Linked DNA regions of Homo sapiens: region 1 is linked to region 2. A link means that fine-mapping ties the variant in region 2 to the expression of a gene that starts in the linked region. Tissue or cell type: whole blood. Region 2 holds a variant in brackets; the other region holds the start of a gene. All regions are shown on one strand. Distances are from middle to middle.

Region 1 (4,208 bases), 22 kb before region 2:
TCCTCTGGGTAGAAGTCAACAGTGGAGGTCAGATGCCCTGCGGAATTGCTGGGTTGGCGAGGGAAGAAGCATGTGCTCCAGCTGTCCCTGGAACACGGTGGCGGGGTGCCCCAAGTGGGCATGGCCCTGGTGGAGGAGGGAGGGAGGAGAGTGGCTCTGGGGTCTGGGTGCAGCTTTGTTGCTGTGTGACCTTAGCTTACTCGCCCTTTCTCCCTGGGTAAAATGAGGCTGTCATCACTAGGAGAGCTCTGAGACCTCCCCAGTCCAGCGCCCCGTTGTTTCCCATGTGCTGTTGCTGCTCTGGCCTCTGTGAGCCCCGGGAGTCCGCAGGGAGCCAGGCTGGTGATTCTACACCTTCCCGAGGAGGAGTCCCACCTCCCGGTTGAGCAGACTGCTCCTGATCATCCTCTCCAGAGAGTGGGTGTGGGGATAACTTCAGCCAGTGGCTATGCTTCAGTCATTTCTGCCAGGTGTGACATGACTGCCTGGCCTGGCGTTTTTTCACATAGCAGCTTGCCTTGCCTCCCTCCAGCAGCTTTGGTCCCTATTTTAGCGGATGCCTCTTCTGAGAGGGAAGTGCATTGGACCTGGAGGTGGAAGATCTACGCTTAGCACGGGCCTGGCTCCTCTCTCATTGACTGGCCTTACGCCGACCACAAATAATTCCCCTTACCCAGAGTCTTTGAGGGTGAAATGAGGCGATGGGGGGAAAGTGGCTTCTAACCTGTGAAACACCCTGCAGATGACAATGGTTTCATACCAGGCCCATAGGACTTCCCAGCATAGGCCAAGGCCACTGCCTCATTTCCCTCGGCCCCAGGAATTTCTTCCTTTCTGGAGTGCTTCATCCAACTGGGTGCCCAGGCAGGAACCCCTAAGGGCCAATGAGTTGTCTGCAGAGAAGTTCTAGCAGTTCAGGAGAGGAGCTCACCTTAGGCTGGGGCTTGCGGCAGGGATGTTAGCAAAGGCTCCAGGAAAGAGGCCTGTGGTGAACTCGGGGCAGGGCTTTGGAGGGAGGGCTTTGCGGCAAGCAGAGGGGAGGTGAAGGCGTGGGTAGAGTACATCAGGGCAGCATGGAGAAGGCTGGGTGGCTTGGGGGAGGGTGGCGATGGGGTCATAACAAAAACATAAGAAGGTGGTTTGGGGCCAGGTGATGGATGCCTTGGGAACTGCTAGCCCAAGAAGTTTGGGCTTTTTTTGCAGGAGGGCAGCCACTGAGGATTCTTGAGGAGAGAGAGACCATAGAATGAATGAAAGAGTTGGAAAGACTTTAAAGCTCTGGGAGGCTGAATCCTTTATTTCGCTGGAAGAAAAACTGAATGCCAAGAGGGCCTCACTTTCCCCAAAGCTATACAGCCATCAGGGGCAATGCTGGGATTCCCCCATGGATCTCTTGACTCCTAATACAGTGCTCTTTCTGATATGCCATCTGGCTCCATAATGAACATTGTGTTCCAGGAAAATCAGTCTGCGCTGAACAGGATGGAATTGGGGCAGGACGTCCAGTGAGGAGGACATTGAGGCAGTAGAGCAGTTGATTGCCGAATGACCACCTACCCTGACTTAAAAGATCAACCTCAGGGAGGATTGGAGCTTTCTAGAGTCTCTTGGGACAGCAGAAGCACAGGCCGGGTTGGACTGAATCTTTAAGTGGACATGAGGGACAAAGTACCTCCTGTTGGTAAACATCTCACCACCAACCCACTGTGGTGGCTAAAATCCCACCTTTAGTCCCAGCAACATATGAGCATGTCACCAGGAGGTCTTCACAGGCCTGTCTGCCACCTGAGTGTAGACATCTTTTGGCCCTGGAGCCCAGAGAGGCTGAATGTGGAGAGGGTGGAGAGAGGTCTGTAGTCCTCAGAGAAGACTTGCAGCTTTTTCAGAGCCACCAACCCATAAAAAAAAAAATCCCCAAACAGAAAAATCCTAACTGTGGTGACCAGGTACCTCCTGAGACATGAAGCCTCCACTTACCTGGACCCTGGAGGCCTCTCCGGGCACAGCTGCCAATGTTGATCTTAGATAAGACCACCAGCAAGTAAACATCCACTGTGCAAAGCTGTGTTATCTTTGGGGAACTGAAATGTCCCCTGGGAGTTGGAAACTCCCCTAGCCACATACCACAGAGTTGAGGAAGGAAGAGCTGATGGACGGAAGAACCATGGCGGGAGGAGTCATCCGGAAGCTACCTCGCTGCCCTGTCAGTTACGGAACAGAGGAGAGATGCCGGCTGGAGGACACAGCAAATTTGAACCAAGAGGAGCTTGGAGGAAGCCCGAGCGACCTGGAGGGGACTGGCTGACCTTCCTCATTCTTTTCAAGTGTGAATAATAACCAAGCCCAGTTTGGCAACTCCTTGAGGGTGAGGACGAAGCCCCATTCTCCTTTTTGGAACTTGGTGGGGCTCAGGAAGCAGGTTCTCTCCAGTCGGTGGCTTTCCTTTCTGTTGCGGGTCTCTTGAGGGCCTGCCTTCATGAAGGCACATGAGTGACTCATCATTTGTGAATTAATTGCTATATGTGAAGGGCATCTGAGAACAAATTATCTTCATAGACTTTTCATTATAATTTTATTTGTACTGATAATTAGTTGGTTTAGCAAGCTCTTTTTTCATAGATTTGGCTAAACTTCAGTCTGAAAGAGGCAAATTCTGGGGTTCTAGAAAGAGATTTTATTCTTTGATATAGGGCTATTTGGTGGGGTTGCTTTTTGTCCTAGTTGTAGCTTTTATAATTTCGAGATTCACATTTTGCAATAGAAATATACAGGCATACCTTGGAGGCATTACAGCTTTGGTCCCAGACCACAATGAAGCAAGTCACACGAATTTTGTTGGTTTCCCAGTAAATATAAAACGTATGCTGATACCATACTATAGTCTAAGTGTGCAACAGCATATGTCTAAATGAATATACATATATATTTTTTTGAGACAGGTTCTTGCTCTGTCACCCAGGCTGGAGTGCAGTGGCACTATCATGGCTCACTGCAGCCTCCACCTCCCTGGACTAAGATGATCCTCCCACCTCAGGCTCCCAAGTAGCTGGGACTACAGGTCACACCACCACACCCAGTTAATTTTTGTATTTTTTGTAGAGACAGAGTCTTGACATGTTGCCTAGGCTGGTCTTGAACTCCTGGCTTAAGTGATCTGCCTGACTTTGCCTCCCAAAGTGCTGGGATTACAGATGTGTAGTCTTTGAAATCCAGTGTGTGTTCTTACAGTGCATTTCAATTTGGACTAGCCATGTTTCAAATGCTCAGCAGCCACATGCGGCTCATTCTAGATAGGCGGCCATCGCTCTTAAATCCTCCCTGACCTTAGCCATGCTCTCTCATCCCTCCTCTTCGCCAAGCTCTGCCTCTCTCACTGGGGCTTCCCTAGCCTCCGGCCATCTTGGGGCCAAAGCTCTAACACTTTGCCTCTCTCGTGTCTTCTGTTCCCCTCCAGTGGCTTCTGCTTTCTGCCTTAAAATACACCCAGGTTCCTAATCCTGAAAACGTCTGTTGTGCACCGATCCCACCCTCCCCTCGTGTTACCATCTCCATTTCCTTCCCCTTTCCTTGTGTCCTCTTCTTTGCTGTGTCCTGGCCCCTCAAAACTTGACCTTGCCTCTCATCCCCACTGCTGTACTGAAACTGTTGTCTCAGCGTTGCTGATCATCCAGCCTTTTAGTCTATGGACCGCTAAGAGCCATAGGACGACCTCAGGGTGGGACGTGGCTTGGAGGGCCATCTCGTCTCAATTTCCAGATACAGACCTGTGTTGGGTTGTGTTGGATTCATGAGGAAAGCTTCATAAGTTTTATGCACGTTTATAAGACTCCATCCTTGGATTCTGATCCAGTAGCTCTGGCGTGGGGGCTTTAGAATCTGTTTCAAGTATCTCAGGTAATTTTGATTATAAATTACCAAGTATCCCAGGTAAATTTTGATTATAAATGCTTGCTTCCAGCAGAAAATATAAACATATGGAAGATGAAATCTTTCTCTCTGAATAACCCAATTCAGTTTCCACTCGTGAATATCTTATATAACCGTAGTACATTTATCAAAATTAAAACACCAGTGTTAGCACATTACTGTTAATCTCCAGACTATTTGTAAGTCACCAATTTTTCCATTGTCCCATCTGTTCTTCCTTTTCTTTCTCTTGTCATAACCACTTTTAGAGGGTTTTGAATGGTATCATTTTGTCTTCACCG
Region 2 (4,208 bases):
CCTAAGGTCACAGAGCCTTTGAGAGAGAGTTGAGCCTCTGGGTCAGCCTTCCTGTCCTGGCCAGGCAGGAGCCTCACTTGCCCAGACTGCAGCCAGCACTGTCTGTATGTGCTGTCTACAGCATAGTCATTAATTGGTCCAAGGTTTCCAGCCAGAAGTGTTCAGGAAATATTTGTAGACTGAATTGCTATTCATCCTTCCCGACGGTCAGCTTCCTGAGGAGGCATTATTGGTTTCATTTTGATGTTTTCCACTACTCTTTTAATTTGTTCGAAAGGCATGTCTTTCCCTTCTCTTCTGATCTTTATCCATTCACCTGATAACAGGTGCTATCTGAGCACATGCTCTGTGCCAGGCTTTGTACGGTGACCATTTCTCTGGCCCAGGGAAGGTTTTGCACCTTAGCACTCAAGAGGTAGAGTAGCATGGTAGAGTTAGTGGTTAGGAGACCAGACCCATTCTCCCATTCACTAGCTCTTGACTTTAGGCAAGGATATCTTTGTCTCTTTACCTGAAAATGGAGACATCAATAAGAATTCTTTCATAAAGTTTGGAACAATGCTTGGTAGAAGGAAAGAAAAAAGCCACTCAATACCCATTAGCTATTAGTGCTGCTCCTGGTTTACTCCTTCACCGTGGGCTGCACACACTCAAGTCTCCTCCTCCCTCTGGCTGGGACAACAGGACATTCCCAGTCCCTACAAAGCTGCTGCTAATGAAACTGAGTAGACTCAATCTTCCAACAACTAGCACAGTTTTTACTAAGGGGAAAAAAGAATGGGGTGGGAATTTTTTTTATCCCTCCAATATTTCACATCCTTTGAATGTAAGAAAAACAGCAGAAAGGACAGAGTCACAGCAAACATAACTGCCTTGGCCAACACGCTGCACTGCAGCAGCTCTCTGCCTGCCTGGGGGGCTCCTGCATAGAGAAGCTTGATTTGGCTCCTCAGTCACTTGATCATTTGACACTCAGACAGAGGGGAGCTTCTAGGCCCATTTCCCCAAATGGACACTGACTTAGTTTATGCTTTTTAATTCAGTGAACAAACACATGCTGAGCACCCACCTGTCATGGCTCTTAATCTTTTCTGTGCATTCTGGGGAAGGTTATGGACCCTCATCAGACTAATGTACAAAACACACAGAACTAGGCTTATAAAGAAAATTCAATTATAAATTATACAGTAATCAACTTTTTTTTTTTGAGAAGGGTTTCACCCTGTCATCCAGGCTGCAGTGCAGTGGCACCATCGTGGCTCACTGCAGCCTCAAACTCCTAGGCTCAGGCCATCCTCCCACCTCAGCCTCCCAAAGTGTTAAGGATTACAGGCGTGAGCCACCTTGCCCAGCCTGTTATCAAAATATTATAAAGCAATTTATGAGATAGTGATGCATGTACTTCTTTGTTAACACTTCAAGCAACAAACCCTAGCGGCAGGTCTAATAACCACTGTAATTTCAAAGTTGTGATGAGCATAAGTGGTATTTTGAGGTAGCTAAGTAACCGTGATGTGTGATGACAATATCTGTGA[A/C]TTCTACTGGTGACAAAGTGACAGGCACTACAAATACTACTGAAGTTTCTGGCCTACATCCATAATTGAAGGAAATGCTAAATATCAGAGTCACTGAAAATGCATTTTTTTCCCCCTGTCCCAATTCATCAACCCCTGAACTCTATTCACAGAACCCTTGGAGATCCACGGCACCCAGGCAAACCCACAAATACGTGAAAGGCAGTGAGCTGAGGGAAAGCAGTAGAGATGTGGCCATAAAAATGAGCCAGGACTTCCTCAAGAATCTCAGTAGGGAGCAGGGCAGGTCAAACATTTGTAAATAATCACTGAACACGTGCCACGGGCATATAGGCAGAACAATGGGATTTATAAAATGATAGCATTCTTACATTATTCTTACGGTGATGCTTTTGTGACACTTTAGGTCATACTGGCTAAACTTGAACGAAATGGTACTGTTTACCACTTTTAAAAGTAGCAGTAGCTGCCTGCACTAAAGACTTACTGTGTCCTGGGCCCTGTGTCAGGGCCTTGCATACACTAGCTGGATAGGAGGTAGCATTGGCCCAATTTTGAGGATGAGCAGATGAAGGCTCTGAGAGAGAAACTGAGTCACTTGCCCAAGGTCTTCTGGTGGGTACACATAAAGTGGCAGAGCTGAGATTCACACCTGTATCCACCTGTGCCCTTAACAGCATCATCCCTGGGGACGTCCGCTGAGGACAGCCAGGCTGGCTGGGATCCCAGCGTCCTCTCCGCTAAATGTGCTTTGGGGTTGCTCTGAATCTGGGCTCCCATGCTTTGCTCCCACGCTTGAAGCAGGGCCTGAGAACCCACACCATTCCTGGAGCCCTTCCCTGGGCTCGCCAGCACTTACCCCCTGAGGTCGGCGATAAGGATCTGCCCTCCATTGCGCACATCAAAGATTTTGACGGACCTGTCTGATGAGCAGGTTGCCAGGCGGGTGCCATAGTAGTCCATCTGGGCGTCGTGCTGCAAAGGGAGGACAGCTCGGGAAGCCTGCAGGCTGGGTGGGTGGGTGGGTGGGGTGAGGGCTGTCACTACACAGAGTCTAGTTTGGACCAGAATCTCCCTGAAATCAATCTGATCTCAAAGTATCATCACCCTCAGGCAGGAAGCTAGCATGTGGACATTCTCACTTCACCTATGGGCAGTGTCTCTCTGAAATGGACAAAGCAAGCCATGCCCAGCTGGTGTCACAGACCCTTTACATACCTCAGGGAAGGGCTCTTCCATTCCTGTTCCGCAGGGTGGGTATGGGAGAAAAAAAGTTGGCCTAGCTGCCCTCTTCTTCCTCCATCCTCTCAGGCCCTATTCAGTTCTTAGGCTCTGTGGGCTAAAGGGGAATACCCCTGGGTTCAGCTCAGCCCTAGCACCTGATGCTAATGCATGGGAGCAGGCCAAAGGAGTGGGCCTCTGACTGCCTGGAGTCCCCAGTCAGGTCTTCTGTGATGCAGCTCTGGCCTGCACACAGGGTTCCATTCAGATATTTGGGCTCTTTCCAGCCCTGGCCCTGGATCCTTTGTGGACCTTTGTTTTGGGGCTTCTGCTCGACCTTTTCCCTAGTAGTGTGCCCAGAGCTTCCCAGACTTTCCACCCAAGGAACACAATGCCTTAAGTGTCGCTGCTCTCACCACTTGTGAACCGAATTCCTTGATGCTGACTGAGCATGCAGAACTAGGCCTGGCCCCTACCTGCAGATCCTTGTCCGCAGGGTGATGGTCTCTGAGGCACCATGCCTCCTGCACCACTGAACACCCTGGTCCCTTCTGCTTGCTGGCCCTGCCTATTCCAATGGATGTCCCTTTCCCCAGCTGTCCCACCCTGGGAGTTTCAGGACTATCAGCTGCACTCCCATGGCCACCAGGGGCAATTATGCCCATTCAAAGGCACTCATTCTGTCTGGCTCAGATGGGAATTCTCACCTCCCTACGCAAGGAACACATCCTGATTTTTCTTTGGGAACTCCCTCCACTGTATCAGGCCTTGGTTTCTTGGAGGGCAGGCAGTAGAGGAGTGTTTCTGAAGCACTTCTCATGCTTCTCAGTGGAAGGAGGCAGGACATAGTACCTTTCAGATCTAAATCCTATCTCCTTAGTTTACCTGCTGTGCAAACTTTGAAAACACTTCATCTCCTTGAGCTTCAGTTTCCTTATCTTTATTATTTACCAACATCCTATGGGCCTTAGTTCCCTTATCTTTAAATAAGGCTAAAGATAGCATCTGTCTCAACAGTTGTTATGAAGGTTAAACAAGATATTGAATGAAAACTCACGCCTGTAATCCCAGCACTTTGGGAAGCTGAGGCGGGCGGATCACCTGAGGTCGGGAGTTCGAGACTAGCCTGACCAACATGGAGAAAACTTGCCTCTACTAAAAATACAAAATTAGCTGGGAGTGGTGGCGCACGCCTGTAATCCCAGCTACTCGGGAGTCTGGGGCAGGAGAATTACTTGAACCCGGGAGGCGTAGGTTGCGGTGAGCTGAGATCACGCCACTGCATGCCAGCCTGGGCTACAAGAGCGAAACTCCATCTCAAAAAAAAAAAAAAAAAAAAAGAAAAGTACTTAGCATGGGGCCTGACACTCAGTGAGCATGCAAATGTTTGTCATTACTACTTGGCCTCATCTAGTTCTCAAACCAAACTCATACGAGTAGGTAGCATATCCA

The links. PIP is the estimated chance that this variant, and not a neighbour inherited with it, causes the effect.
Region 1: GHRL starts here. The variant in region 2 is fine-mapped to the expression of GHRL in whole blood (TOPMed, PIP above 0.99).

Annotation. Positions count from the first base shown.
Region 1 is chr3:10,290,865-10,295,072 of GRCh38, forward strand. It overlaps GHRL (ghrelin and obestatin prepropeptide), which reads right to left and starts at 2,083. Exons shown (of 6, transcript NM_016362.5): 1 at 1,978-2,083; 2 at 1-587. It overlaps GHRLOS (ghrelin opposite strand/antisense RNA), which reads left to right. Exons shown (of 6, transcript NR_073568.1): 6 at 1,204-2,585. RefSeq lists enhancers at 1-329, 1,841-1,910, 1,921-2,170, 1,981-2,275.
Region 2 is chr3:10,312,927-10,317,134 of GRCh38, forward strand. SEC13 (SEC13 homolog, nuclear pore and COPII component) reads right to left here. Exons shown (of 9, transcript NM_183352.3): 3 at 2,395-2,510. Among named protein-coding and RNA genes, the nearest start is that of SEC13, 6.1 kb to the right of the region's middle. The variant A/C (reference allele first, on the strand shown) is at 1,536.